Linked DNA regions of Homo sapiens. The protein of the gene in region 2 purifies or fractionates together with the protein of the main gene of each other region. This does not show direct contact. Each region holds a gene or a part of one and is shown on either strand. Other genes may lie near its edges. The genes, in order: PIK3C2A, PRR12, TNRC6B, REPS1, AP1G1, AP2A2 and TNRC6A.

Region 1 (4,408 bases), on a different chromosome or scaffold from region 2:
TTTTGGGAGGCCAAGGCGGGCGGATCACGAGGTCAGGAGATGGAGACCATCCTGGCTAACACGGTGAACCGTCTCTTCTAAAAAATACAAAAAATTAGCTGGGCATGGTGGCAGGCGCCTGTAGTCCCAGCTACTTGGGAGGCTGAGGCAGGAGAATGGCGTGAACCCAGAAGGTGGAGCTTGCAGTGAGCTGAGATGGCACCACTGCACTCCAGCCTGGGCAACAGAGCGAGACTCCGTCTCAAAAAAATAAATAACAAGCAAACATCATCGAGACTGTCAATCAAAATCTTAGTTTTGTATCTGATACCCTTTGGGAGTCTTCAGTTTTAATGTAGCTCAATGACCAGTAGATTTCCTGTGTCGAGTTTTTTCATATTTTCTTCAGACTAGATTTCAAAAGTGAGGATGAGGTGAAGTGGGTATTAGAGTTTGTTTCCGTGTACAGTTTCATTTTTCCACTGCCACCAAAATAAGTGGAATTAAGATTATCCTTTCAGCACCTTACTTAGGCCTTATGTTATTATTTGTGGATTTTACTGGTATATGTAATATTTATGGCTGATTGAGTAGTGATTTTATTTTTTAGGGATCAGATCTGGATAAAATATTTATGAGTGATTAAACTTGAGAAGAAATATTAGAAAATAAGTATTAAGTAGGTACAAAAGTAATTGCGTTTTTTGCCATTACTTTTAATGTCAAAAACCACAGTTACTTTTGCACCAAGCTAATAATAAATATAGGAAATCAACACATACACCTTTTCAACCAAGGCTCATAAAAGGATAATGGGTGACTGAACGATGTCATCTCCAATACTTTGAAGAGAAATCACAAAAAATTACTTATTTTATTTTGAGACGGAGACTTGCTCTGTCACCCAGGCTGGAGTGTAAGTGATCTCGGCTCACTGCAACTTCCGCTTCCCAGGTTCAAGTGATTTTTCTGCCTCAGCCTTCCGAGTAGCTGGGATTATAGGTATCTGATTATAGGCATCAGCACGCTAATTTTTGTATTTTTAGTAGAGACAGGGTTTTATCATGTTGGCCAACCTGGTTTCAAACTCCTGACCTCAAGTGATCCACCCGCCTTGGCCTCCCAAAGGCCATGAGCCACCGTGCCCGGCCACAAAATATTACTTTATAATGGATTAAGACTACTTTGTCTTTAAGTATATATGAAAAAGTGTATTTCTAAGGAAATATTGTACTTATTTAAATCCCACTTGTTTTTGTTTTTCTTTTGTAGCTTTCCTAATAGGATGGTTCTAGGAAGAACACACATAAAAGATGTAGCAGCCAAAAGGAAAATTGAGTTAAACAGTTACTTACAGAGTTTGATGAATGCTTCAACGGATGTAGCAGAGGTAACCTTACTAAATGAGAAGTAATAACATCTTATACCTTTTGTGTTACATAATATTTAAACTAATGAATTGCTTTCTCTTTATTCTTAGTGTGATCTTGTTTGTACTTTCTTCCACCCTTTACTTCGTGATGAGAAAGCTGAAGGGATAGCTAGGTCTGCAGGTGAGATTATTTTTTTTCTCTTTATTGGTAACTCATGATCTGCAAGTCTGTAACTTCTCGATGAATGTGGTAGAATGACAGCAGGCTTACTAGCTGTAGTCTGAGAATGGGAGGAGAGTATTCTTTCTAAGCCAGTCTATTTCTGAATAAATATAACTTTCCTAATAGATGTGATTACTAAAGAAGTATAAATCAATGACCTATCAGGTTGTTTACTCCTTTTTCCCCTCCCTTCTGTCCGCACCACATGTGACAGTCTTGAAAATAAAGCAAAATCCTTTTATTGCAGCTTGAACCACTACAACCAGTAAATAAAGATGAAAATATTTGTATTTTCAGATGCAGGTTCCTTCAGTCCTACTCCAGGCCAAATAGGAGGAGCTGTGAAATTATCCATCTCTTACCGAAATGGTACTCTTTTCATCATGGTGATGCATATCAAAGATCTTGTGAGTGATTACAAAGAATGATGGTTGTAGAGGAAACCCTTACCTTGGTAGGAAGCATTACTATTAAGGGACTGCTTTTCTTTTTAGGTTACTGAAGATGGAGCTGACCCAAATCCATATGTCAAAACATACCTACTTCCAGATAACCACAAAACATCCAAACGTAAAACCAAAATTTCACGAAAAACGAGGAATCCGACATTCAATGAAATGGTAAGTTAAAATCATTTCTAGAAGTTTCCTTGGTTTATTATTTTTTTAATTTTCATTTTTAAGTTCTGACGTGCGTAAGCAGGATGTGCAAGTTTGTTACATAGCTAAACGTACCATTGTGGTCTGCATACCTATCAACCTATCACCTAGGTATTAAGCCCAGCATGCATTAGCTATTTTTCCTAATGCTCTCCCTCCCACCATCCCATCCCCCAACAGGCCCCAGTGTGTGTTGTCCCCTTCTCTGTGTCCATTGTTTTGAGATTTTAAATTTTAAAACATTTTAAGGCCAGGCGCAGTGGCTCATGCCTGTAATCCTAGCAATTTGGGAGGCCGAGGTGGATACATCCCTTGAGCTCAGGAGTTTGAGACCAGCCTGGGCAACATGATGAAATTCCATCTCTACAAAAAAAAAAAAAGAAAAAAATTAGCTAGGCATGGTGGCACGCACCTGTAATCCCAGCTCCTCGGGAGGCTGAGGTCAAAGGATTGCTTGAGCCCAGGAGGTCAAGGCCACAGTGAGTCATGATCATGCCACTGCACTCCAGACTGGGCAACAGAGTGAGAGACCCTGTCCCAAAAAAAAAAAAATTTTAAGTTTTTAGGTATCAGTTGCTGAACTATTTGTTATACAGTGTACACCAATAACAGTCCAATAGTATTTAACAAAATGATATAAAATAGAGCCCTCATAGACCTTAGGAGCCATAATTCAACTACGTTTCCAGTGTGTGAACCCCCCTCTATAATAGTCACAAAAAGTGGTTGTCTAGTCTGTGCTTAATTACTTCCAGACTATTCAGTTTGTCTTAGATCACTCCACCTCTTAGATGATTATTATTATTATATTATTTTATTTATTTTTAGAGGCAGAGTTTCGCTGTTGTTACCCAGGCTAGAGTGCAATAGAGCCATGTTGGCTCACTGCAACCTCCGCCTCCTGAGTTCAAGTGATTCTCCTGCCTCAGCCTCCTGAGTAGCTGGGATTACAGGCATGTGCCACCACGCCTGGCTGATTTTGTATTTTTAGTAGAGACAGGTTTCTCCATGTTGGTCAGGCTAGTTGTAAACTCCCAACCTCAGGTGATCTACCCGCCTCAGCCTCCCAAAGTGCTGGGATTACAGGCGTGAGCCACCATGCCTGGCCTCTAGTTTTTATTTTTTAGCTAATGATTAGTCTTGCTTTGTATCTCTCTATGTCAGACATCACAGGAATGATAGTACAATCCAAGACTCCTGAAACACAAAATGTCCTTCTAAAGTATTCAGACAAAACCTACCGGATGTGTCATAATCAGTGTCACTCATTGTGGTCACTCTTTGGCTAATATTCTCACGTTTTCACTTGAAATGTTCCAAGAAACCAAACAAACTTTAATTTGTGATTTACTGTTCTTTTTTCCTTTGTTGTAGCTTGTATACAGTGGATATAGCAAAGAAACCCTAAGACAGCGAGAACTTCAACTAAGTGTACTCAGTGCAGAATCTCTGCGGGAGAATTTTTTCTTGGGTGGAGTAACCCTGCCTTTGAAAGATTTCAACTTGAGCAAAGAGACGGTTAAATGGTATCAGCTGACTGCGGCAACATACTTGTAAACTAGTGAATGTTTGAGCTTTGGAAGCATGAACAGTTATAAACGTGCATGCATACATGCACACACACACAGACACACACACACACACTTGTTAATTTTGTATAGTATTTTTATACTTGGACAGAACTTATAAAGTTAAATATACTTGCTGCATTTCAACACATCTGTTGGACCAACAGTCACATAACTAACCTTTTTGAATTTTTGGAAGCCATTGCTGTTTTAAAGTCATTATGTAGAATGCTACAAACCCTAAACTTAATATATACTAATTCCTGAAAAAGACTTTGAGACAGTACTATGTCAGTTCAGCCACCTATTTTGCATTGTTTTCTATAAGGAGGCAAAGCATATGTGTTTTCCTGTTATGCACCTTTTATAGCCTTTACCACTGTGTAATGTTCACAAACACCAAAGTAAAGGAAAAATGCAGGATGTTACCGTAAAATCCAGCTGCTATTCATGGAGCTGAAAAACAAAGCACAAATAATAGATAGCTAAGTTAAGAACTACTAAGTAGTTTATAGAAGTAGGGAAAAACGTAATACTGCTTTTTATTCATGTCTTTAAAGCCTTTTTCAGAATAAGTGCCAATCACTGATGTTGTAAATAATGGTGC
Region 2 (4,452 bases):
TTTTTTTTTTCTTGAGACAGGGTCTCTCTATGTCACCCAGGCTGGAGTGTGGAGTGCAGTGGTGCGATCTTGGCTCACTGCAACCTCTGCCTTCCGCTCACCGCAACCTCTGCCTTCCAGGTTCAAGTGATTCTCCTGCCTCAGCCTCCCGAGTAGCTGGGACTACAGGCGCGCACCACCATGCCCAGCTAATTTTTGTATTTTTAGTAGAGACGGGGTTTCACCATGTTGGCCAGACTGGTCTCGAACTCCTGACCTCAAGTGATCCACCCACCTCAGCCTCCCAAAGTGCTGGGATTACAGGCATGAGCCACCATGCCTGCCCTCTGTGAGGTTCTTAAAAAGCCTGAAGAAGGGAGCTGGCAGACAGGGGAGAGGTTAGCAGTCTGCATACTGGTGAGCAGGCCAAGGAAAGGACAAAGATGGTCCTGGAGGGAGGAGGATGAGGCCTTGGAGGAAGAGGAGGTGAGGAAGTAGAGTTAGGGAGGTGATGATTTAGGAGTTGGGAGGGTCATTCAGGAAGAGGAGTTAAGAACCAGACAAGGGCTTTAAGACCACAAAGAGACATTCCAGGACTGAGAAGGGGATTAGGGATAGGAGACAGGTCTCCTTTGCAGCCGCAGGAGCCAGAGTAGGTCTCTGGAGAGACTCTGATAGGGTAGAAGGGACACTGGGAGCTGAGTGGTAGTTACAGAGGGGCTTTTGGTATAGAAAGCAGTGTTTAAAGGACAAGAGGAAAGGTGCCAGGAATGATGAATAACATCCAGGCCTGATGTCCCTGTCTCCCCCAGAGCCCCCGCTGCTGGAGGAGAAACCCCCACCCACTCCACCTCCTGCCCCGACTCCTCAGCCTCAGCCTCCGCCACCCCCTCCGCCGCCACAGCCAGCCCTGCCCTCGCCACCCCCGCTGGTGGCCCCCACGCCCAGCTCACCACCGCCACCGCCGCTGCCGCCGCCACCTCCACCAGCCATGCCCTCGCCTCCACCACCACCCCCACCAGCCGCTGCCCCACTGGCTGCTCCTCCTGAGGAGCCCGCCGCCCCGTCTCCCGAAGACCCCGAGCTGCCGGACACCCGGCCCCTGCATCTGGCCAAAAAGCAGGAGACGGCGGCAGTGTGTGGGGAGACGGACGAGGAGGCCGGCGAGAGTGGCGGAGAGGGCATCTTCCGGGAACGGGACGAGTTCGTCATCCGTGCTGAGGACATCCCTTCCCTCAAGGTGAGTCCCAGCCTTCTCCAGAAACTGGGCCTGATGGGTTTGGTCACCTGTTTGTTGAGTGCCCGCTGGATGACAGGCTTGTGCTGAGACCTGCAGATCCAGTCGTGGCCGGGCCGCCCTGGAATTTGCAGTCCTATGGGGCTGATAGAGGTGTCGAGGACCTGCGGGCCTCAGAGGTGTTATTTGCGTTTGTGTCTGTACATGCATTACCTGTATATAAGGTAAAGCGATTGTTAACGCGTATGTGTCTATATGTGCGTTACCTGTATATAAGGTGAACCGCTTGTTAATGTTTATGCAGATACCCTGCTGTGGGTGGTAGAGGACCAGTACTGTACAAGCAGATGAGGCTCTGGCCCTAGGGAGCTTCTAGTTTAATGGAACCAGCCAGAGAGGCGGGCTGCTTTGCCATTTATGGCACAATGGTGGAAATGTGTCATTGACATAGACTACCTGCAGATACACACTTATGTAACCTGTAAATATAATCATGAATTGGGCCGGACGCGGCAGCTTACACCTGTAATCTCAGCACTTTGGGAGTTTGAGACCAGCCTAGGCAACATAATGAAACCTTTTCTCTCAAACAAACAAAAAAAGTGAATCATTTAGGAATGGTTATTGTGTGTCAGGCCATATCTTTTTGTTTTTTTGAGATGGAGTTTCGCTCTTGTCCAGGCTGGAGTGCGATGGCTCAATCTCGGCTCACTGCAGCCTCTGCCTCCCAGGTTCAAGCGATTCTCTTGACTTGGCCTCCCAACTATCTGGGACTACAGGCGCAGGCCACCACACCCGGCTGATTTTTGTGTTTTTAGTAGAAATGGGGTTTCACTGTGTTGGCCAGGCTGGTCTCGAACTCCTGACCTCAGATGACCCACCTGCCTTGGCCTCCCAAAGTGCTGGGATTACAGGTGTGAGCCACTGTGCCTGGCTGGCCATAGCTTCAATATTTACCTTAAATACTTAAATACGTAAATGCAGACCAACAGCCTGTTCACTGCTTCCAGTTTGTCTACCGCAGGAGCTTGAAAACTATGGCCCCTAGGCCAAATCCAGCCCACTGCTTGTTTTTGCAAATAAAGTTTTATTGGCACACAACCATGCCCATTCATTTACATGTTGTCTATGGCTGTTTTTCCCATATGGCAGAGAGCTGGGTAGTTAGCTGGCCCTCAATGGCAAAAAATATCTCTGGCTCATCATGAATAAAGTTTGCTGGCCTCTACTGTACTGGGTTCACTGGACAAATAGAGTTGGATCAGAGGATTAATGTGCAAGGCACTTGACAGGGGTAGGTGTTACCAGGTGCCCATGGAGTGCTCTGCACAGGGCATGCGGCTGAGCAGGTGCTCAGGAGGTCAGCCCATTCTCACCCTGATGGTGGCATGGACGCCAAGGCCATTCTCCATGTCAATCATTGTCATTGATTGTACTGATTATGATACAGGATTATTGTTTGGCCCTTCGTGTACAGTGTGACATTTAATCTTGGCGGGGCATGGCGGTTCACGCCTGTAATCCCAGCACTTCGGGAGGCCAAGGCAGGTGGATCACTTGAGGTCAGGAGCTTGAGACCAGCCTGGCCAACATGGTGAAACCCCGTCTTTACTAAAAATACAAAAAATTAACTGGGCGTGGTAGGGCGCACCTGTGATCCCATCTACTCGGGAGGCTGAGGAAGGAGGATCACTTGAACTCTGGGGTGGAGGGGGGAGGTTGCAGTGAGCTGAGATTGTGCCACTGCACTCCAACCTGGGCACCAGAGCAAGACTCCATCTCGAAAAAATAATAATAATAATAATTTAGTCCTGGATGTTGTTTTAATTTAATCTTCGATGTGACATGGAGAAATTATGGGAAGAATTAATTATTAATTATAAGGATAATAACTATCATTACACTTTTTTCTTTTCTTTTCTTTTCTTTTTTTGAGACGGAGTCGCCCAGGCTGGAGTGCAGTGACGCAATCTCGGCTTACTGCAACCTCTGCTGCCCGGGTTCAAGCGATTCTCCTGCCTCAGCCTCCTGAGTAGCTGGGATTACCAGCAAGTGCCACCACACCTGGCTAATTTTTGTATTTTTAGTAGAGAAGGGGTTTCAGCATCTTGGCCAGGCTGCTCTTGAACTCCTTACCTTGTGATCCACCCATCTCGGCCTCCCAAAGTGCTGGGATTACAGGCATGAACCACCGCGCCCGGCCTTACACTTTCTTCTTAAGTGTGTTTTTTGAGGCAAACTCAAATGTATTTTTTCCTGTGTTATTTCAATCTATTTCATTGTGGGAAAAGTAAATAATAGAGCAGGCCGGGAGTGGTGGCTCACACCTGTGATCCCAGAACTTTGAGAGACTGAGGTGAGAGGCTCACTTGAGGCCAGGAGTTTGAGACCAGCTAGGCAAATAGCAAGACCTCACATCTACCAAAAACAAGGGAGCGAGACTGTCTCAAAAAAAAAAAAAAAAGGATATTGACATCGTAGGCCAGGTGCGGTAGCTCACACCTGTAATTGCAGCACTTTGGGAGGCCAAGACGGGCAGATCACCTGAGGTCAAGAGTTCAAGACCAGCCTGGCCAACATGATGAAAGCCCATCTCTACTAAAAATACAACAATTAGCCGGGCATGGTGGCAGGCGCCTGTAGTCCCAGCTACTCAGGAGGTTGAGGCAGGAGAATTGCTTGAACCTGGGAGGCGGAAGTTGCAGAGAGCCAACATCACGCCACTGCACTCCAGCCTGGGCCAAAAGAACAAAACTCTGTCTCAAAAAAATAAAGAAAAAAAGAATATTGACATTGTTAAATGACCGTCACCACCATCCATCTCCAAGTTTTATCTTTTTATATAAAATAAACTTGATTATAGAGACTACTAGTAGCGTTTTACAGGGATGGAAACTGAGGCTCACACAGGTTAAAAAGTCCTTCTGATTGGGGATTTCTATGCCCGTTTTTTCTGAGACAGGGTCTCCCTTGTTGTCCAGGCTGGAATGCAGTGACGTGATCTCAGCTCACTGCAACTTCTACCTCCCTGGTTCAAGCAATTCTCATAACTCAGCCTCTCGAGTAGCTGGGACTACAGAGGATCCCACCATGGTTGGCTAAATTTTGTATTTTTAGTAGAGATGGGGTTTCACCATGTTGGCCAGGCTGGTCTCAAACTCCTGACCTCGGGTGATCCACCCGCCTCGGCCTCCCAAAGTGCTGGGATTACAGGAATGAGCCACTGTGCCTGGCCT
Region 3 (4,452 bases), on a different chromosome or scaffold from region 2:
GAGAGACTTCAGTCTCTACAAAAATATTTTTTAAAAATCAGACGGGTGTGGTGCATGTGCATATAGTCCCACCTACTCTAGAGGCTGAGGTAAGAGGATCGCCTAAGCCCTGGAGATGGGAGGCTGTAGGGAGCTATGATCTCACCACTGCACTCCAGTTTGGGAGACAGAGCGAGACCCTGTTGCCAAAAAAAAAAGAGCGATTGTTAGGATAGTCAGTTGCCCAGAATTAAACTTTCTTCCGTCACTATTTGAATAGGAAACATCATACCTGGTAAAAGTAGCAATGGTAATGCCATTCTTAGTTTGTCATTGTCAACTTGAATGTCCCTATAGAGCATATAGTTCAACAAATTAAGGGGGATGCACCTTTCAGTCTTTTTTTAGTTAAAATTAATATTAAGAACCAGTTTTCTTTTTTTGAGACAGAGTCTCACTCTGTTGCCCAGGCTGGAGTGCAGTGGCACGATCTCGGCTCGCTATAACCTCCGTGCCAAGTTCAAGTGATTCTCTTGCCTCAGCCTCCTGAGTAGTTGGGATTACAGGCACCCACTGCCATGCCCAGCTAATGTTTGTATTTTTAGTAGAGACAGGATTTCACCATGTTGGCCAGGGTGGTCTCAGACTCCTGACCTCAGGTGATCCACCCGCCTCAGTCTACCAAAGTGCTGGGATTACAGGCATGAGCCACTGTGCCCAGCCAAGAATCAGTTTTCTCCGAGTACACCTCTAGTGTTCAGCTAATCCATTTGTGGCCTCTTAGAAAAATGATTACTTTTAACTCATTCTTTTTTCAAGTATTGAAAAGAATGAGGAAGGAAATGAAGATTTCTCACTGGCTCCCCATGCAGAATAAAACCTGCTAAAATTTTAAAAAGCTACATCCACATAGCAAAAACCTTCAAACTGTGTGGAAAAGCAAAAGATAGTCAATAAAATAATCTTTGGCCAGGCGCGGTGGCTCACGCCTGTAATCCCAGCACTTTGGGAGGCCGAGGCGGACAGATCATGAGGTCAGGAGATCGAGACCATCTTGGCTAACACGGTGAAACCCCGCCTCTACTAAAAAATCGAAAAAATTAGCCAGGCGTGGTGGCGGGCACCTGTAGTCCCAGCTACTCGGGAGGCTGAGGCAGGAGAATGGGGTGAACCCAGGAGATGGAGCTTGCAAGTGAGCTGAGATCACGCCACTGCACTCCAGCCTGGGCGACAGAGCAAGACTCCGTCTCAAAAAATAATAATAATAATAATAATAATAATAATCTTAACCCCTAGGGTCTCTTCCCAAAGGTAATCTCTTAGAAGTTTGTGTCCCATTCAAAAATTTTACAGAGAAGGGATTGTACTTCGTATACTGTTCTTCACCTTGCTTTTCTCATTATACTTATAGCTTCCAATTTTAGCACATAGTCTGCTGCTTAATTGCTTCATATACAGTATTTCTTTTTTTTTTTTTTTTTTTTTTTTTTTGAGAGGGAGTCTCACTGTCTCCCAGGCTGGAGTGCAGTGGCGCAATCTTGGCTCACTGCAACCTCCACCTCCCGGGTTCAAGTGAGCCTCCTTCTCAGCCTCCCGAATAGCTGGGATTACAGGCATGCGTCGTCACGCCCAGCTAATTTTTGTATTTTTTGCTGGAGATGGGGTTTTGCCATGTGGGTCTGGCTAGTCTTGAACTCCTGACCTCAGGAGATCCACCCGCCTTGGCTCCTAAAGTGCTGGGATAACAGGCGTGAGCCATTGTGCCTGGCCTTTACACAGTACTTCTTTTATGGGTGACCCACAATTGGTCTAACCAGTCCCCTTGTGGTGGATATTTAGGTTGTTTCCAAATTTTTTCTATCAGTGATGCGGTGAGTATTGTTATACATGTAATTTCACCTATTTTTACAAGTATATTTATGGTATAATTTTCTGGCAGCCTGGGCATGATGGCTCATGCCTGTAATCCCAGCACTTTGGGAGGCTGAGCCAGGCAGATCACAAGGTCAGGAGTTTGAAGCCAGCCTGGCCAATGTGGTGAAACCCTGTCTCTACTTAAAAAAAAAAATACAAAAGTTAGCTGGGTATGGTGGCACACGCCTGTAATCTCAGCTGCTCGGGAGGCTGAGGCAGGAGAATCGCTTGAACCTGGGAGGTGGAGGTTGCCATGAGCCAAGACCACGGCATTGCACTCCAGCCTTGGGGATGGAGCAAGACTCTGTCTCAAAAAAAAAAAAAAAAAAAAAATTCCTGGCAGTTGAGTTACTGGGTGAAAAGTTTAATGTGCATCGGATTTTTTAAAAAGTAGCATTGCCAAATACCCCTCACATGAAAGTTGAATCTATTTACATTTCTACCAACAGAATATAGGCATGCCTGTTCCTTCCACCTTCACCCCACTGGATATTATGGCATTTCATTTAACAAATGATTCTTAGAGACATTTCCTTTCTTTATAGTCTGGAGCAAAAGCACACCACCTGCTCCAGATAATGGTACTTCCGCTTGGGGTGAGCCAAATGAAAGCAGTCCTGGGTGGGGCGAGATGGATGATACAGGAGCATCGACCACAGGCTGGGGGAACACGCCCGCCAACGCTCCCAATGCCATGAAGCCTAGTAAGTGTGAAGCTTTTCATTTTTGAGGGATCCTTTTTTTTTTTTTTTTTTAATTGAGACGGAGTTTCACTCTTGTCCACCCAGGCTGGAGTGCAGTGGTGCAATTTCGGCTCACTGCAACCTCTGCTTTCCAGCTTCAAGCGATTCTCCTGCCTCAGCCTCCCGAGTAGCTGGGATTACAGGCGCCCGCCACCACGCCCGGCTAATTTTTGTATTTTTATTAGAGATGGGGTTTCTCCATGTTGGTCAGGCTGGTCTTGAACTCCTGTCCTTGTGATCCACCCGCCTTGGCCTCCCAAAGTCCTGGGACTACAGGCGTGAGCCACCGTGCCCGGCCGGGATTCTTTGTTAAATGTTTGTCAAATGTCAGATTTGAGAATCTGACATTTTGGTGAGGGCTGTTTAGTTTTAAGCTGTTGATTCAATGAGATTCAGGACCTTGAGTGTTAAATAATTAGTTAATAGCAAACGGTTGTGGCTTGGCTTGGCGTTTCTTAAAATGTTTAAGGTGAATTAAAAATCATAAGTTAATTTTGTTTTAAATTTAGTATCTGGACAGAATTATAATTTTGATGTGATGCTCTTTTAGCCCAGTGACTATGTGCTCACCATATCTAGCTTGCATTTCTACTTGTTAGTATAATTTAAAACAAGAGTTCCTGGCTTTTAATGTGGAACACGATCTGTGCTGCCCAGTGACTTCATCCTTCTGCACCTTCCTTTGCCGTTGTCTCTCTTCCACATAAGAGCATTTCAGATTTTTTAAACCTGGCATAAATTTCACTTCAATTTTTTAAATGAAGAACGTCACACTTATTCAGAATCATTGAAAATCTAAAATCTAAGCTGTACTTGATCCAGCTGGTGATGTGTGGTCACAGTAATGAGCAGAACTCTGTGGACTGAGGCTATGGAATGTCTCATTGACTGTTGCTAAATTCAGGTGCCTGTTTACACTTACTTTTGTAACTTTCTTTAAAATGTTCCAACATCTCTTTTCTACCATATAGAAGCAGATTTAAGGGATTATCTTTTGATTAAATAATGAACATTTCTGGAATGACCAAAATTCAAACAAGAAGATAAATTCTGTTAAGTTTATCACATTATATTCAGTACTCTTACAGTGCCACATAAGGGAATGTGATATTAGCTCTATTCTGGAAATTCACATGTGTGTATATGTAGTAATTTGACTACATTTTAAAAATCATGAATCTCCTCGACCTCATTAAAATAGTTAGCTTTATGAAAATTTTGTTTTTATCATTATTTCTATTGTGAAATCAGTCGTATCATCATGGGAAATGTAATCTAGTAGACTTGAAATAGACCCAAAATGCTGCAAGAAGATGTTAATCAGACCCTGGGCACAAAGAGATCCTTTAGCAGTATATTCAGGATTTTCATGTGTCTTTCCCAACCTCAGGATCACCTCTCTTCTATCACAAAACCACTTTTCCTCAGATTCTAAAAATGTCTTCTACTCTTCAGGATCATCTGTAGTTATAGCACACATCCTTTCTGTGGGTAAGTTAAATGTGTAATGTGCGGAAGAAAGGGCTAAACCATCATAGTCTACCAGTTGATGGAGACAGTTACCCTGTGATCTTCTGTAGCCTGTCTTAAATTTGATGTTATGAATCCTATGATTAAAAATTAGACCTCTCTTATCTTTTCTGTAAGAAACATTTGTTAGAAGTTTAGCTTTATCTCTCTAAAAGAAAGGTTCACTTGCATGTCTTCATTTTTCTAAAGGGGTCAGTGTGTTATTTATATTGGGTTTTTAGCTCGTGTTGCTTGTCAGTGGATGCTATAAAGCCTATGCTTGTATAATATAAATCATAAATATGGT
Region 4 (4,452 bases), on a different chromosome or scaffold from region 2:
AAACAGGCCATAGGCTGAATTTGGCCCATTAAGACTTAATCTGCTGATTCCTGGTCTAGAACACCATAATTAAAATACCAGTTTTACTATAAACTATCAAGTTTAAAAAATGTACTGCTACGGGGTTTGAAAACAGGGTGTTAAAATGGCATTGAATTCAACTTAATAAAGGGGGAAACATGGGAAGAATACCTACCCGTACATGAGGAGGCTCTGCTCAATTAAAGAACTAGTCTGACCATAATTTACTTCAGTCTGATTATTGTTATTATTATTATTTGTGAGATGAAGTCTTGCTCTGTTGCCCAGGCTGGAGTGCAGTGGTGCCACCTCGGCTCACTGCAACCTCCGCCTCCTGGGTTCAAGCAATTCTCCTACCTCAGCTTCCCGAGTAGCTGGGACTACAGGTGTGTACCACCACACCCGGCTAATTTTTTTGTATTTTTAGCAGAGATGGGGTTTCACCATGTTGGTCAGGCTGGTCTAACTCCTGACCACAAATGATCTGCCCAGCTCAGCCTCCCAAAATGCTGGGATTACAGGTGTGAGCCACCACGCCTGGGCCAGTTTGATTACTTTTAATTGTCGTGCTTTTTCTTCCTAGTAATTAAATGTGTCTAGGAATAGCTTTGATTACCTGGGAATAGAAGGTTGTGATGCAAGAACAGCAGCTAAGACACCCGTCTTTTGTGTATGTTCATCAACTTCTGGCCTTAATTCATCTTCTGATTTTAATCTTCTTCGAACAGGTTTAGGTGGTGGAGCAAGTGGTGTTGTGCCTTTGCTCTTTAAGACAAGAATTCCATTAATAATAAGCATTTTTGAAGACATTCATAGTTAGCACTTTGCAACACCATTTGCTTTCTTTAAGCCATTTGCTCTTGGAAAATTGAAAGTTACTTGTCCTACTTTAAATCTATATATTTGTGGCAAGAGCTAACTTAAATTACAGTGAGAAAAGATGTTTCTAGTTGACACCACAATCATGAATGTACCTGCAATATAAGTATTTTTAGAGCAACATACTGATGCAAGACTGTAATATTCACAGTTTTAACATAAATATGATACAGAATCAATATATACCTGTTCAACAATAAACAAAGGCAGTCTCCAGAAATATCTATGCATTATCACCATAGGATTTCTTACTCAAAAATACTAACATTCATCTTAGTGAATAAAATAACATTATAAAGTAATGGAAAGCTAGGCAACTCTTTAAAAAACCAAAAACATCATTATTAATATGCACAGTAATTATAACTTCTGAAAATGAGTTGACAGTTTGTCGGTGATTATGAATCTGCCCTTGGCAGAATAAAAAACAGCATTTTGGCATTTACCATAACTTGATTTACCTGTAAATAAATAAAAACAATAGTCAACTGCTATCTCTTTAGTTAAGTGATATTTTTAATTTGTTACTGTGAGTTGACAAAAATAAAGTTCATTACTTAAAAACTCACAGGACTACTAATGTAATAAAACATAGTGATATGGTTTGGCTCGGTGTCCCCAGATCTCACTTCAAATTGTAATCCCCATGTGTCAAGCGAGGGGCCTGGTGGGAGGTGACTGGGTCATGGGGGTGGTCCCCCATGCTGTTCTTATGAGAGTGAGGGAGTTCTCACAAGACCTAATGGTTTTACAGTGAGGCACTTCCTCACTCTTTTTCTATCCTGCCACCTGCTTCCCCTTTGCCTTCCGCCATAAATGTAAATTTCCTGAGGCCTCCCCAGCCATGCAGAGCTGTGAGTCAATTAAATCTCTTTTGTTTATAAATTACCGTCTCAGGTGGTATCTTTATAGCAGTGTGAAAACAGACTAATACACACACAGTGTCCAGAAAGTAGAATTTAAGCACTTCAGAAACACATGCTGTTTTTATAACTATTGGGAATGTCTAGATAACAGAAAAAAAAAGTTACCAAAATTATTCCCTCAAAGGGAAAGTGTGCTGATACTTGCAATCTAAAGTACACTGATATAGTTTAGATATTTGTCCCCTCCAAATCTCATGGTGAAATGTGACCTCTAATGTTGGAGGTGGGCCTAGTGGGAGGTGTTTGGGTCATGGAGATAGATCCCTTGTGAATGGCTTGGTGCCCTTCTCACAGTAATGAATGAGTTCTTACTCTTGAGTTCACATGAGAGCTGGCTGTTTAAAGAGCCTGGCATCTCTCCTTGCTCCCTCACTCACCATGTGACACACCGGCTCCCACTTTGCCTTCTGCCATGATTCTAAGTTTCCTGAGGCTTCACAAGAAGCAGATGCTGGTACCATGCTTTCTGTACAGCATGCAGAACCATGAGGCAAAATAAACCTCTTTTCTTTTTTTGAGACAGGGTCTCACTCTGTCACCCAGGGTGGAGTGTAGGGCACTATCTCAGCTCACAGCAACCTCCACCTCCCAGGCTCAAGCGATCCCCCCACTTCAGCCTGCCAAGTAGCTGGGACTATAGGCGCATACCACCACACACGGCTAATATTTGTACTTTTTGTAGAGACGGGGTTTCGCCACATTGCCCAGGCTGGTCTCAAACTCCTGAGTTCAAGTGATCCGCCTGCCTTGGACTCTCAAAGTGCTGGGATTACTGGTGTGAGCCACTGTGTCCGGCATAACCTCTTTTCTTTACAGATTACCCAGTCTCACATATTCCTTTATAGCAATGCAGACGGACTAACACAGACATAAAACATATAAGGATTGACAGATGAACAGATGGCATGGAGAGATATGTAGTAAAGCAAGTATCCTAAAATAATAATGGTATAAAGTAGTGAATTTACTGATGTACAATGAAAAATTGTTTCAATTTTTCTGTATGCTTAAACGTTTTCATAATAAAATGTTGGGGGAAAAAATTATACCTAAAACAGTTAAAGAACAAGTTAAGAGAACAGGGAATAATAACAACCTTAGAGGGCTGATAATTTTTCTTTATTATATTGAAGACTACAATAAAAGAAACTGAATTTCACCTATAAAGAAGTTCTACCTTATATAGTGGGAAGAATGCAATAACCACTTAAATTTTGAGAACCTGTGACACATACTTAACATAGATTACAGAATATCATCTCCATTAAATAGGCAGACTTTGTTCTGAGCTAGACTGACTATACTACAGTTAAAGGCAGAGAAATGGGTTAGATGATTTCTGGCTGACCTTATTTCTAAAAATTATTTCACATTACTTATGATGTACAAAATTATTATTATAAAAGACATTTTGCATACCACATTGGCAGGAGCACTAGCAGCTGTCTTTTCTTCAGTTTTACTATCTGTTTTGGCAACTCGAAGAGAACTTGCAGGATCAGAAGCTTTTTCAGCCTAAAAATGAATATGTTTATCACTATTAATTCTACATAACATGTAATTATGCATAAATATAGAATATGTACCAAATCAGAATAAAATGTTAAATATTCTGACAAGAAAACTGAGATGATGATAAGAAACTTGAAGGAACTTTATTAAATGAGCCTTCTCTGCTACTGAAAGGCAGATGGGAGAGCAGGTAATAGATGTGTGAGGGAGAGGAGGACAGGGCAAGGATGCAGCTATGTAACAGATGTGTGAGGGAGAGGAGGACAGAGCGAGGATGCAGGTAACAGATGTGTGAGGGAGAGGAGGATGGGGCGAGGATGCAGGTAATAGATGTGTGAGGGAGAGGAGGACGGGGCAAGGATGCAGGTAGTAGATGTGTGAGGGAGAGGAGGATGGGGTGAGGATGCAGGTAGTAGATGTGTGAGGGAGAGGAGGAGGGGACGAGGATGCAGCTATGTAATAGATGTGTGAGGGAGAGGAGGACAGGCGAGGATGCAGGTCATAAATGTGTGAGGGAGAGGAGGACGGGGTGAGGATGCAGCCACTGCACCGAACCTCTAAGTGGTTAGTCTGGGAAGTCTTCGTGGTTGGGAGAAGGGAGGCATCCACCCAGGGGAGTGAGTACGGTACCCTGTGCACACCTCTACATGCCCACTCTGACCCTCCTAGATGCAGCCCAGTCCCCTAATGGGCACGGCAGAAAGTTGTAGGTTTTAAAAGGGAGCTAGTAGGAAATTTTCCATGGCTATGACCTATAAGAAAGAGATTGCAGAATTCCTCTGGTCTCTCCAACTCCACATTTATGCTCAGCAATTTAGGTCAGAGATTCCTAGAGAGGTTCTTGCCATTGGAACTACAATAGAATATCCTAGAACACTGTGAATATTAAATTTTGGTATCCTATAGTCTTTGCTTAACTAAGGCAACTTACTCTCATACAAATTTTAAATGCTTTAATTAGAAGTTTGGCTGAAATTTGTTTTTAGTTAAAGTTGTAATTAGATCTAAAAGTTACATATAGTGAAATTCCCCTTGGGGAAAAGTTGCAATGAGTGGAGCTATGGTAACCATGGCCTCTTATGACAGGGAAATCTTCACCAAATCACACAGACAG
Region 5 (4,452 bases), on a different chromosome or scaffold from region 2:
AGATAAGATGACTCCAATACTCACTCTTCCTAAGGGCAAAGGTACTTTTGATACAGAGTCTGATCTTTGAAACTGGTGAACTCCTCTTCCACCCATTACCATAGTTCAAACAGGCAAGTTATGGGCTTAGGAGCACTTTAAAATTTGTGGTGGGAATAGGGTCATTAATAACTATGAATATATCTTTTAGAAGGTGACCATTTTGCACTTTAAAGGGAATCAATTTTGAAAATCATGGAGACTATTCATGACTACAGCTAAAGAATGGCGAGAAAGGGGAGCTGGAAGAGCCTTGGAAGTTTCTATTACAAATAGAGCACCATATCCTTCATGCCAAATCTCAACAAAAGCTCTTTTTAACTCCATCTGTCCAGTGTTTACAAATAAACTCGCAAGGTCTGACCAGTTCTTGGTAACAAACATACATGTGTGTGTCTGTGTGTATACAGCAATGCACAGAAAAGGCTACCAGGAGCCTAATGCCTCTTTCAAACATTGGGGGAACCAGTAGAAAAAGGCAGGGCTCCCTAATGTCCATTATTACATTTCCATTCCGAATGCCAGATGTTAAAAGTGCCTGAAGATGGTAACCCAGCTAGTGAGGAATAAATACCCCACCTTGCCCAGTCCACAGAGAAACAACAGTAGAAAGAAGGGGCAACTCTTTGCTGCAGAGACAAAGTGAGTGTTTTTTCGCCATGGATTGCAGTCCTCTCCTCCAGACCAGCTGCTTATTTCCTCAGGGGCCCAGGGAATGTTGATTCTGGCTGTAAATGTGGGAGGGGTGGAGAAGTGCGGAAAAAGGAGAAGAGGAAGAGTGCAAAGTAGCCTCCAGAAGCAGCCAGCCTCAACAGTGGAGGAGAGGACATTAGTCTTTAACAATGCTTCAAGGTCAGCAGTAACTTTAGGAAAATCCTCCTCAGCAGTTCTCTTCAGCTCCTCATGCCCGTGGTACAGTTGGGGGGGACTTGCCAGCAATCACAACCTCCTTCCCAGAGTTCCTTTGATTGAGTGGGATAAAGAATGAGAATGGTGCCAAACCCTCATTGCCAGGACTGAGGGGGAAAGTTGTTCACCTCTGCTAGATCTTGCATTGCTGAGCCCTTGTGATTATATGTAAGCTTGATCCGCATTCGCAGCTGTTGCTATAAGAGGAAAAGAGAAGTGCAAATTATATACTGAAATGAAATCTCCAGAATCTGTCCGGTCCACAAATAGACTTTTAATCTTAGAGGTCAAAACTTAAAGCAAAGCTGTCTGTTAAGAATGACAGGTAAACAACAACAAAAAACACCCAGTACTCTAGGCTTGAGCCAAGAAGCTAACAATGTCATGCCACCAAGTTGAGAAAGCGCATCTGCAGAATACACGGTTAGCTTTAATCCTTGAACTGCATTAAAAGGACAGAACTCCTTGGGAGCATTTTTTCTTTTCTTTTCTTTTGAAACAGGGTTTTGTTCTTATTGCCCAGGCTGGAGTGCAGTGGCACAATCTTGGCTCACCGCCACACCAGACTAATATTTTTATTTTTAGTAGAGACGGGGTTTCACCATGTTGGCCAGGCTGGTCTTCAACTCCTGACCTCAGATAATACACCCACCTCAGCCTCCTAAAATGCTGGCATTACAGGCGTGAGCCACCATGGAGCATTCTCCTAGTAACATTTTGCTGAGTCCTTTTCAAAAAGATTCAAACCTTGTATCCAAGTCTCTTAAAAAATGAGGTGAACATATACTCATCGTACGCTCTCCATTCAGATACACTGTTGCTTTATCTGAAAAACCTACAGTAAATGTGAACATGACCTTTTGTTCCTAAAGCATAAAATTTTAAAAAATGACTTAACTCACAGGTAACAGCAGTAGTTTTAAGAGAACTCAATTAGACACTTTTTGTATGGCAGATTTCAAATACAAATGCACTAAGACATTTTTTACTCTCTGTATCAGATGGTCAAAGGAGTTTGTGCTTGTACTATAGAGGCCGATGCTCAAAATATAGTGAATAGCAGAGGAAAGGCAAGTGTTACAAGAGAAAGAAAGTATACTGTTACTTATGAGCAACTAGTAGAGCTCTATTAAAGAAATTCTCTGAACCATTTTCAAAAACTGAAAACCAACTGATTACTATTAAGGTGAGCTTATTTCTTTGAGAAGAGATAATAAAAATATTGCTTAATTTCAGTTTCTAAAGCTATTTTTCATTTGGCTGCTTCATTTAAAATGCCTCTATTTTTCTATTCATACTTAATAACTGTAGCAGTAAATGTAGGTATTTGGTTTCAACAAATGCTCTTACCTCAGATTTCAACTTGTGTATAAATTAAAATGTCTAAGCTTCTCCCCTACCCCCAAAAACCAGACCTTTAATCTAGCTTTTTTTGAAGTTGCATTTTAATAAGATGCCACTAAGCCACCTGATGTCTCTGGGTTCCATTTGTTATTTACAAAAGAGCAAGGAAGTTAGACCAGGCATTTTCATTGATCTCTTCTCTAACTATGAGTCAGAAAAACCTAAAGAAACAAAGCAGAATTTTATTTCGGGAAATATGCTTACACTTCGGCTCAGATATTGGCTACAAATGTGCTACTCACCTTCTGAGGGTTCAGAACTTTAATGACTTGTGTGATGGTCCCCGTGTTAAATGCTGGGACAATGCTGCTGCTAGGAGACAAGAGCTGCAGCTGGAATGTCTAGGGGGGAACAAAGGGCACTCTTCAGAAAAAGAATTACACAACGCTAGGTCAGAGATACCAAAAACCATTTAGACACCCAGATGATGGGTCAAGCAACAGATTTCACTACTACTAAGTTTTGCCTACTACTTGTTTTCTAGATATCAGGAATTCACAGCACGTGAGTTGACTCCCTGTGGTATTTGTAAAAATCCACTGTTCGGTTCTTTGATCATGACAACTAGTAATAAACCACATTCTCCTTTCTGGCAGAAGGAATTCTAGCCTACCTCTTTTCAAAAGCTGACCAATTCTTCTTCTGGCAACTTCACTTAATGGTAACTGATCAACTATGCAAGTAAAATATCGGTGCTTTTGGCTTAAAAAACAGCCAGAAAGAAATGAAAAGAAAAGCTTCCCAAAAATAGCAAACCAACATACTGGTCACCAACTATAAGCTTTTAGGCTTTTGTGTGATTGGATAACTGGGATGCAGAGACTTGAACTTTTGTTTTTTAAAGCCTGCATAATCTATAATGTGTCAGAGCCTCCTCTCCACATGACAGAAGGAACGGAAAGACTTGCAGAACCAGCCTATACAGCAAAAGACCTAGATAAGCCAAACAGTATTAATTTGTTGAATGCTGGTGGGGTTTATTTGCTTGCTTATAGAAATAAGAGTTGAAAGTGCTGGCTGGGTGTGGTGGCTCAAGCCTGTAATCCCAGCACTTTGGGAGGTCAAGGCGAGCGGATCACGAGGTCAGGAGTTCGAGACCAGCCTGGCCAACACAGTGAAACCCCGTCTCTACTAAAAATACAAAAATTAGCTGGGCATGGTGGCACATGCCTGTAGTCCCAGCTACTCGGGAGGCTGAGGCAGGAGAATCGCTTGAACCCAGGAGGTTGTGGTGAGCCGAGACTGTGCCACTGCACTCCAGCCTGGGCAACAGAGCAAGACTCCGTCTCAAAAAAAAAAAAAAAGTGCTATATAGGGCAAGCTAGGTAAACCATACTGTACTACGTAGCTATTGTATGAACTAGCATTTGAAAATCTTTCCTAAAAGTAGATTAAACTTCTAAAATATTTGAGAGAGAGAGACACTAGTCTTCTCTAGGGCCAAAAGTTGCAAGAGTGAAGATTCACTCTCAATGTACAGATATATTACACTGGGGGCTGGGCACGGTATTCCCAGCACTTTGGGAGGCCAAGGCGGGCAGATCACCTGAGGTCAGGAGATCTAGATTAGTCTGGTCAACATGGCAAAACCCCATCTCTACTAAAAATACAAAAATTAGCTGGGTATGGTGGCGCATGCCTGTAATCCCAGCTACTCAGGAGGCTGAGGCAAGAGATTTGCTTGAACCCAGGAGGCAGAGGTTGCCTGGGTGACAGAGTGAGACTCCATCTCAAAAAAAAAAAAAAAAAAAATATATATATATATATATATATATATATATGGTCTTATTCATAATTCTGCCACATTAAAATTATGTAAGCTAAAGTATTATTCATTACTACCATATTTCATTAAATGTAAGATACCAATCGTAATTCACACCATTATTTTATGTACCACTGAGATAGAAAACATGCTGCCCACTGAATTATGACAAGATACCAATTTTTAAATGTATCCTAATTTTAGAAACATTAAAACACGAAATTAGTACATAGTAGAACCTATAAAATATGACTTTTTTTTTTTTTTTAGATGGAGTCTCGCTCTGTCGCCCAGGCTGGAGTGCAGTGGTGCGATCTCGGCTCACTGCAAGCTCC
Region 6 (4,452 bases), on a different chromosome or scaffold from region 2:
TGTTGCCGAGTGACAGTGCAGCCCTCTCACGGCGAACCCAGGGGGTACCAAGCAGTGTCAGACACTCTTGGCACATGAAACAAAACCATTTTTCCAGCTCAGGCGTGACCCGAGGAGTGAGTATGGCTTTTCTTTGGGTCCCCGCAGTAGGGGCTCGTGTCCGGCAGCGTGTCTCATTGCCTGTGCTGTCTTACAGATCGTGACGTCTGCATCCACAGATCTCCAGGATTACACTTACTATTTTGTCCCGGCTCCCTGGCTGTCTGTCAAACTGCTGAGACTGCTGCAGTGCTACCCACCCCCAGGTAACGCGCAGGCCGCGGCTCCTGAAGCTGCACCAGTGCCAGTCTGATTCCCTGTCTCAGATTTAAGTGGTTTGTTTGTTATTTTAAGAAGTGTGTTACTAGCCCTGTCTCTTGATTCATGGACCTTTCTGCCAGTGCTGCTGTATGCGCTGGCTTTCGTGGAGCAGTTATTGCAGAGCCTACAGTTTTGTTAGTGTTTGGGTCTATTTGTGCTTTTATAGTATCAGATTTGTGCAGGTTTTCTTTTTGAGATGGAGTCTCCCTTTGTTGCCCAGGCTGGAGTGCAGTGACGCGACCTCAGCTCACTGCAACCTCTGCCTCCCGGGTTCAAGCGATTCTCCCACCTCATCTTCCTGAGTAGCTGGGATTACAGGCACCTGCCATCATACCCGGCTAACTTTTGCGTTTTTGTAGAGACGGGGTTTCACCATGTTGGCCAGTCTGTTCTTGAACTCCTGACCTCAGGTGACTGGCCTGCCTCGGCCTCCCAAAGTGCTGGGATTACAGAAGTGAGCCACCGTGCCCGGCCTGTCTCAGTTTTGTAAATGCTTCCAGCTGGGTACACAAATGTGAATGAACTATATTAAAAATGCTCTCATGATGTATGGGTGCAGCCGGGAGGGGCAGGGTGGGCTGCGGGCCACTGGAGACTGGTGAGCACCGTTCTGTCTTGCCCAGAAGACCCTGCAGTGCGAGGCCGCCTGACTGAGTGCCTGGAGACCATCCTGAACAAAGCCCAAGAACCGCCCAAGTCGAAGAAGGTCCAGCACTCCAACGCGAAGAATGCCGTGCTCTTCGAGGCCATCAGCTTAATCATTCACCATGACAGGTGTGTCGGCTGCCTGTGGAGAGGCTTCGTCTCGCGCACACACACACGTTCCTTCTCGTTGGCACGAGACTGGGCGGATCATGTCTGGTTTGTCCACTCCATGGGCCTCCCCTTCGTCCTGCCTCTGTGCTCCCTGCCGGATGCTTTTTTTCTTTCTGTGCAGCCCGGCCCCTCCTGCTCTGAGCTCACCGTGGATTGCTTTGGTGACTGTGGTCTCATCCCACACGAGGGCCTTTTCCTCCTTCCCCTGAGCATCCCCACTCCTGACTGGCTTCTCATGTAGTGGAACAGAGAGGAGACGGGTGGGGTGGGGGGTGTGCGCGCATGTCCCGTGGCTTTGCTGGATGTGGAGCCGCACTTGGTGGGTCCAGGGTCGCAGGGCAGTGCTGGAAACGTCTGTGCCCATCCACGAAGCGCAGAGGCGCAGGGTGGCGGTCGCTCCACACAGCCTGGAGGGTCTGCCTCCTCTGCTCCCACGCCTTCTCTGCTCAGCAGTTGCGGCGCACCACATGTGGTCTGGCGTGGGTCTTGCGTGTGGGGCCATGCTTTAGGGTCCTGTGAGAATGAGATCGCAGTTCTCACCAGGCTCCCAATAATGAGGGCACGTGCCAGGCTGTGGGCAGACGCTCTCTACAGCTTGTGAACACCACCCATTTGCTACTACAGCATTTTTACAAATGATGAAAACTCAGTCTGAGAGTCACACTTCAGAACTGAGAGTTATTAAAACTGAAATTTCCCATTTTGGAGAAAGCTCTGTTGTTATGTGAGGAGAAGCCACATCCTGAGGAGACAGTAGAGTCAGTGGGGCAGCAGCCGCGCTCCCGGCCTTCTCGGCCTTCTCCCTGCCCTGGGCTGGTGCCTCTGGCTGAGACCCCATTGCCGGTCACAGCTTGACCGGCCTCCCGCGGGCCTGATGCAGATTGAGGCTCAGGAGGTGCTGGGAAGGCTCCAGTGGACACACGGGCTGCTGACTCACTGTGGGGATGCACAGGATGGACACAAAATGGATGTCAGGGGTGGGGGTCGGGCGTCATCTGCATCTGGGGAGGCCCCCGAGTTCCCACTTGAGCAGTGTGGTGGCGGTGAGTGCCGTGTGACTTTGCTGTCTGCCATCTGGACCCGTCGGGGAACGCAGACTCTGTCCAGTTTGTGTTGCACTTGCTGAGGAAACCCCACCCACTTCCCCTCCCTCCACACAGTGAGCCGAACCTGCTCGTCCGTGCCTGCAACCAGTTGGGCCAGTTTCTGCAGCACCGCGAGACCAACCTGCGCTACCTGGCCCTGGAGAGCATGTGCACGCTGGCCAGCTCTGAGTTCTCCCATGAGGCTGTCAAGACGCACATCGAGACGGTCATCAACGCCCTGAAGGCGAGTGCCCTGTCCTTGGGTTCTGCTCACTCCCTGAGCAGGTGCCGTGGGTCTTCCTGTGAAGGCTGGGGGTACGCAGTGCCTCCTGACTCCCCGCAGAGATGGAGGTGGTGCTGGTGCTGCTGGCCTCCGCCTGTCACCTACTCTTGGGAGGTCACACCACTGTTGAGGGCCATGCTGCCTGGAGATGGCCGGGTTGGCCCTGCTGTCCTGGTTAGGCTGAGCAGAGGAGTCTCTGGCAGCCCTTTCCCTGCTGGGGGCAGCCCCCGTGTGCCATCCTGCGCGTGCATAGTGCTGACAAGTAGAAATGGTTCTTCTTGGTAGAAAGATGAAATTTTTTTCCCTTATCTCCAAGAAAATCCCCCTTTTACAAAGGAAACTCACTTTGTTCGGGGATTAAAATTTCAGAGTTGGGGCCGGGCGCGGTGGCTGACGCCTGTAATCCCAGCACTTTGGGAGGCCGAGGCGGGTGGATCACAAGGTCAGGAGATCGAGACCATCCCGGCTAACACGGTGAAACCCCGTCTTTACTAAAAATGCAAAAAAAAATTAGCCGGGCGTGGTGGCGGCCGGTGCCTGTAGTCCCAGCTACTCAGGAGGCTCAGGCAGAAGAATGGCTTGAACCCAAGAGGCGGAGCTTGCAGTGAGCCGAGATCGCGCCACTGCACTCCAGCGTGGGCGACAGAGCGAGACTCCGTCTCAAAAAAAAAAAAAAATTTCAGAGTTGGAAGAGCCCAGTTGAGGTTGGCCATTGCCAGCCTTTGCGAGTCTCCAGAGCGACCCCGAGGGTTCGTTCCACATAGGGGACCCTGCGGTGTGTCCACCAAGTCCCTAGTCACCGGTGCACATGCGTTAGGGAGTGGGAGGCGGGGAGCTGCATGTCCCCCATCTGGCTCAGCCTCAGGCTGTGGCAGGGCTGCTCCCAGTCCCCCGCACGTCTGCGTGCAGCTCACAGATATTCCGGGTGGTGTGCAAGGGGCTCGTGGTGGGCATTTGGTATTCTGGATTCTTCTTGGTCCTGGTTTTGGTGTTTGTTTTAGTCAATCCCTATTGTCAGAAGGGCTGGACACTCATTTGCACACGGCCAGTGCTAGCGCTGGTGGTGCCCACTCTCCTGCCTTTGTTGGGAGCAGAGCTCGGGCTTTCTCGTGCTGCAGAGCCTCCTGGGGGCCCATCAGCACGGGCTCTGGGGTGGGGCGTGAGGACCTGCCTTGGGGCAGCTCCGTGTCCGAGGCAGTGGGGTCTTTGGCTGCATGGAAGGGAGTCCTTGATGGCCTGCACCAGGCAGTGCGCTCAGTCCTAGCGAAGCTGGCCCTTGTGGAGGGCAAGGGAGGCATGGACGAGCGGGCAGAATCCAGGCAGTGCGCTGGGTCCTAGCGAAGCTGGCCTGTGCGGGAGGGCCGGGCCAGCAGGCGGAACTCTATTCCGGGCTGTCCAGACACACGTGGCCCGAGTGCAGGTCGGCTCCCTGGACCTGGATGTGCATGTGAGGGAAACTCAGAGTGGGTGTTGAGATGCGGGTGCCGAGCCTGTCCCCAGCCTGTCCCCAAGCTTGTGCCTTGCTCCTGCGACCTCTTACTCTGTGCCTTGTTCCCCAGACTGAGCGGGACGTGAGCGTGCGGCAGCGGGCCGTGGACCTCCTCTACGCCATGTGCGACCGCAGCAACGCCCCACAGATCGTGGCCGAGATGCTGAGCTATCTGGAGACAGCTGACTACTCCATCCGAGAAGAGATTGTGAGTTCTGGTGGCCTCTGAGTCCTCTCCTGCCACAGGCGTGAATCTCAGCGGCAGGATTTCCTTCGTGCTCTGCGATTCCGTCCAGCAGGACTTGATTGAGAACCCATGAGATGCTGAATACAAGGCTCCTCTGCCTCTGTGTTTTCATCCACATTTTCAAGCTGGGTGTGGTGGCACCTGTGGTCCCCGCTACTCCTGAGGTGGAGGC
Region 7 (4,452 bases), on a different chromosome or scaffold from region 2:
AGAGATGGTACTAGATAATGCTAGACATGTTGGCATTGGCTAGATCACGTCGTGCCTCTGTAGGTCCATCTGCTGTCGTCATTTGGAAGCACACACTTTGTAATGGTGTGATAGTAACAACCTTTTCGCTATCTTTCCTCTAGCGATTGTTAGCGCAGCAGCAAAGGGCGCAGAGTCAGAGAAGCGTGCCTTCTGGGAACCGGCCGCAGCAAGACCAGCAGGTAGAGCCCGCCCTGCAACTCGCAATGCTGTCTTTGTGTTAATAAACTCTGCTTATCTCCATTGTAGCAAGAGATTCAGAAATGTCTTTCTTAAAACAATCTTACTAAGATGTAATGCAGTATGTTTTTCATTAAGTCTGCTGGTTGCCCATGAGTTATGTGAACATTATACAGTGATTATTCACCTTTCTGCTGAGACGAAAGTGAATTCAAAAATGGAGAGGAATATGTAGTTTTCTGTAAAGACGTTTTCCCCCAGTAATTTTTTCCAATCATTTCATTGTTTTAAGGGTCGACCTCTTAGTGTGCAGCAGCAAATGATGCAACAATCTCGTCAACTTGATCCAAACCTGTTGGTGAAGCAGCAGACTCCACCATCTCAGCAGCAGCCACTCCATCAGCCAGCCATGAAGTCTTTCCTTGACAATGTCATGCCCCACACTACACCTGAGCTGCAAAAAGGGCCATCACCAATAAATGCTTTCAGCAACTTCCCTATAGGTGGGTTTCTCCTTGGCCCAAGTATTGGACTGATGCTTAGGTATCACAGGCGTGCCTCCTTCACACGTACCCTTACAGCTCTGTTCCTTCATGAAAGCTACATTGATCTCTTAGCTGTTCCCTCTCAGAGAGTTGCCATCCCCTCTCCTAGTTTTAACCTGCTCCACATTCAGGGAAGGTCTCTCTCCTCAAGAAAATCACGATTTTTCTTTTCTTTCCTTTTCTTTTTTTTTTTTTTTAGGACAGAGTCTTGCTCTGTCACCCAGGGTGGAGTGCAGTGGTGAGATCTTGGCTCACTGCAACCTCTGCCTCCCGGGTTCAAGCGATTCTCGCACCTCAGCTTCCCGAGTAGCTGGGATTACAGGCGCGCACCACCACGCCCAGCTAATCTTTGTATTTTAATAGATTTGGGGTTTCACCATGTTGGCCGGGTGGGTCTGGAACTCCTGACCTCAGGTGATCTGCCTGCCTTGGCCTCCCAAAGTGTTGGGATTACAGGCATGAGCCACCATGCCCAGCCTTCAAAATCACACTATTTCAAAAACTCCACACTCGTTTAAAGTGCATTAGAATAAAGGAAACATTTCACTTTTTAAAGGACTAGCTGTCTTAATCTTAAGTAGGATATTAAGGGTGGGAAGGAAGGCTGATGTTCTTATTAGAAACAGTACACCAGAGAATTTTTGAGCAGTGCTGTTTTGGTGAAACAGCTGGGGATGGTCACAGTCACATTTGCTAGCTCTCAGAACTTGAAGTTTTAACTACTGTCTAACTATGTATAAATGATTACTGATATAAATTTAAAAATGGAGGTAAGAAAGGAGATTGCCTTTCTTATACATGCAACTCCCCACCCCCACCCACTCTTTTTTCTCTGTTATCTCCAGGCTTTTATTCACTGGGTAGAGATTTTGAGCTTATATGTTGTTTCTTTCCTAGGTCTCTTTTTTTCTTGTGCCCTTGATTATATTTTAACCATTGATTGTTCATGCCCTGTTTATTTTGCTTTTTTTCTCTCTCTTTTCCTATACAGTGGTTTCTTGTAAACCAGCTTTGCTGGTTGTTAGCCAGAGTGTTTGAAGACCATCAGTTAACTAGTTGTTCTGGGCTGTGGGCAGAGGCTGGGGCATGCTGTTGCCCCTGCTGCTGCCTCACTCTGTGACTGAACTGGTTTGGCTCAGCCTGGTATTACCACAGACTCTCACCTGGGACATAAATTGTACTTTGAGTCCTTAGGATTGTTAGTGATCTCTGCATTTCCAAAAACAGTTCCCTTGTCAGTTACTACTGTGGGTGAATACTGAAGAAGCCATTTAGTGGTGGCCAGGTGATGTCAGAGACAACAGTTAGTAGTAAAAGAATGATACCCAAGTACAGGGAGAAGTTTTTGTCTCATCAGTGAAGGGAGCTGGCTCTTCCTATTTGACTGCACACTTGACATATAAATTGGCCACATAAGTTCTAAGCATAGGATTTCCTGCCCTGGCCAGCTTCTCAGTGAGGGATACTTCTTGATTAAGAAAGTCTGCTTAGCCCATGCAAATACCAATACAGTTATCTAAGTTCGGCAACAGGCTATGGCCTGTTGGCCAAATTTGGCCCACTGCCTGCTGTTGTAAGGTTTTGTTGGACACAGCCACATTTTCTCTAACCTGGGGTCTGTGGCTGCTTTCGTGCTGCACCAGCAGAGTTGCATGGAGACACCGGGACCATGTGGCCCACAGAGCCTGAGATACCGGCTGAACCTCTGCAGAAAAAAATTGTCAACTCCTGATCCGATTGATGGGTCCAAGAGTAGCAAATTTAATTGCTCTCTGCAAAAATACGCATGGTATTAGAGAATTTGTATTATTAAAGTTTTCAGGTTTGACAGACCTTAACATCACATGGACTCATCAGACCAGAGAATTTAAAACAATTTAATTTGGAACTTTAGAATAAGAACCTCTTGGGAATTGTGAAACAAAGATTCTGGCTCCCACTGGAAAGTCTTCATTTTTAAACAAGCGTTTTAGGTGATTCTAATATTAATAGTCCCTAGATTACTCTTTTAAGAAAAACTAGCTTAATAGTTTTCTGACCACTGTATCTAAGGTTGAAATTTCCATTCTTGTTCCAAGAGAATATCCAAGTCTGAGGGGCCTCATCAGCAAAGGTCAAGTAAATTGTGCCTTAAGATATATCTGTCCCCAGCCTAGGTGTAATTGCTAGTACAGGACATTTTTACTTTAGAATTTGCAAGCAAAAGATAGCAACTGAAAGTGACCACAGATCTTCATGCATAGGTACACTTGGGAAATAGCTAAACAGATACATTTTATTCCAAGTAAACTTATACATCTGGCTTCCTTAAAACTTTTCTCCCTCTTATTTTGCCAAGGAGTTTTAAATAAATCATCAAAATTTTATGGAGAAATATTTTCTACGTATAACTAAATTATAGTATTAACAGTTATGTGGTTTGAAAACATTAGTTACATGTTTTTCTAGGAAATAGAAGTTGTGCTACTAGAAAGAAAATGTGCTGTATTTTCTAAGGTTTTGTTTTGTTTTTTAATTTTTCAGGCTTGAACTCAAACTTGAATGTAAATATGGATATGAACAGTATTAAAGAGCCACAGTCAAGACTAAGGAAGTGGACGACAGTGGACAGCATTTCTGTGAACACATCTTTGGATCAAAACTCCAGCAAACATGGTACAAAAGATACATCTTACCAAAAAAAAAAAAAAAACACACACACCTGCAGAATACTAGATTTAGGCCTTTATTTTATTTTAAATGTGTTTTCAAAGCCAAATTATCTTAGAACTTTTCCTCATTTAAAAAAAGTTGTTATTAAGTCTTAGTTACAATAAGAGACTTTCAGATGAAAAGCAGAATTTACCTCTACTCTGTTTTATAAAGGAGAGATCAGATGATACATGTTTAAAAATTATTTTCTCTTTGGCTTTTTACATTTTTCTAAGTGATTTTATTCTTATATTATTACACTTATTAACATTTACTGGATTTAATTTGATATGTTCTTAGGACATTTAAAACTTCTACCAGGGTCCCATTCCGTCACCCAGGCTGGAATGCATTGGCATGATCTCAGCTCACTGAAAACTCTGCTCCCGGGTTCAAGCAGTTCTCCTACCTCAGCCTCCTGAGTAGCTGGGATTACAGGCCTGAGCCACCATGCCCGGCTAATTTTTGTATTTTTAGTAGAGACAGGGTTTCATCATGCTGGCCAGGCTGGTCTCAAACTCCTGACCTCAGGTGATCCATCTGCCTTGGTCTCCCAAAGTGCTGCGATTACAGGTGTGAACTACTGCACCTGGCCCATAATTTTATTTCTATCAATTCCTTATATATGGACACATTTCTTTATATAGCTTATTGCTATGTGTAAGTCATATGGATTTAACAGTATTGTCTTTTCAGCAATTAAATTTTTTTTAGAAATGCCGTTTTCATCTTATTTAGTATTATCCATTCACCCAGCAAATATTAATCGAGTATCTTCTGCTTTCCAAGGCTATGTTAGCACCTGGAATACATAGACACAATGTACATACATGCTTACAGTTGAATGTATGTATGTATGTATATACGTAAAATTACTTGCCCTGGAATTGTTCATTGTGAACGAAAGTATGTCAGCAGCTTTAGTACAATATAATAGGTAATATCAAAGTTAATATTTATAATAGTTTAATAATACCAAGTTCCTTAGGAGCATTGA

The links.
Region 1: the proteins of PRR12 (region 2) and PIK3C2A purify together in Homo sapiens (affinity purification with mass spectrometry, with the first as the bait; one large-scale study listed by BioGRID). This does not show direct contact.
Region 3: the proteins of PRR12 (region 2) and TNRC6B purify together in Homo sapiens (affinity purification with mass spectrometry, with the first as the bait; one large-scale study listed by BioGRID). This does not show direct contact.
Region 4: the proteins of PRR12 (region 2) and REPS1 purify together in Homo sapiens (affinity purification with mass spectrometry, with the first as the bait; one large-scale study listed by BioGRID). This does not show direct contact.
Region 5: the proteins of PRR12 (region 2) and AP1G1 purify together in Homo sapiens (affinity purification with mass spectrometry, with the first as the bait; one large-scale study listed by BioGRID). This does not show direct contact.
Region 6: the proteins of PRR12 (region 2) and AP2A2 purify together in Homo sapiens (affinity purification with mass spectrometry, with the first as the bait; one large-scale study listed by BioGRID). This does not show direct contact.
Region 7: the proteins of PRR12 (region 2) and TNRC6A purify together in Homo sapiens (affinity purification with mass spectrometry, with the first as the bait; one large-scale study listed by BioGRID). This does not show direct contact.

What each region holds. Positions count from the first base shown.
Region 1 is NC_000011.10:17,089,120-17,093,527, reverse strand, and holds part of PIK3C2A (phosphatidylinositol 4-phosphate 3-kinase C2 domain-containing subunit alpha), read left to right. Parts: intron 1-1,251; coding exon 1,252-1,369; intron 1,370-1,459; coding exon 1,460-1,532; intron 1,533-1,871; coding exon 1,872-1,981; intron 1,982-2,068; coding exon 2,069-2,194; intron 2,195-3,607; coding exon 3,608-3,790; 3' UTR 3,791-4,408.
Region 2 is NC_000019.10:49,600,700-49,605,151, forward strand, and holds part of PRR12 (proline-rich protein 12), read left to right. Parts: intron 1-791; coding exon 792-1,219; intron 1,220-4,452.
Region 3 is NC_000022.11:40,267,684-40,272,135, forward strand, and holds part of TNRC6B (trinucleotide repeat-containing gene 6B protein), read left to right. Parts: intron 1-2,438; coding exon 2,439-2,597; intron 2,598-4,452.
Region 4 is NC_000006.12:138,908,031-138,912,482, forward strand, and holds part of REPS1 (ralBP1-associated Eps domain-containing protein 1), read right to left. Parts: intron 3,342-4,452; coding exon 3,246-3,341; intron 787-3,245; coding exon 638-786; intron 1-637. UniProt on the Homo sapiens protein: May coordinate the cellular actions of activated EGF receptors and Ral-GTPases.
Region 5 is NC_000016.10:71,732,015-71,736,466, forward strand, and holds part of AP1G1 (AP-1 complex subunit gamma-1), read right to left. Parts: intron 2,694-4,452; coding exon 2,595-2,693; intron 1,146-2,594; coding exon 1,044-1,145; 3' UTR 1-1,043. UniProt on the Homo sapiens protein: Subunit of clathrin-associated adaptor protein complex 1 that plays a role in protein sorting in the late-Golgi/trans-Golgi network (TGN) and/or endosomes.
Region 6 is NC_000011.10:984,449-988,900, forward strand, and holds part of AP2A2 (AP-2 complex subunit alpha-2), read left to right. Parts: intron 1-196; coding exon 197-305; intron 306-983; coding exon of another isoform or gene 984-986; coding exon 987-1,134; intron 1,135-2,336; coding exon 2,337-2,505; intron 2,506-4,103; coding exon 4,104-4,241; intron 4,242-4,452. UniProt on the Homo sapiens protein: Component of the adaptor protein complex 2 (AP-2). Adaptor protein complexes function in protein transport via transport vesicles in different membrane traffic pathways.
Region 7 is NC_000016.10:24,806,063-24,810,514, forward strand, and holds part of TNRC6A (trinucleotide repeat-containing gene 6A protein), read left to right. Parts: intron 1-143; coding exon 144-221; intron 222-511; coding exon 512-722; intron 723-3,287; coding exon 3,288-3,419; intron 3,420-4,452.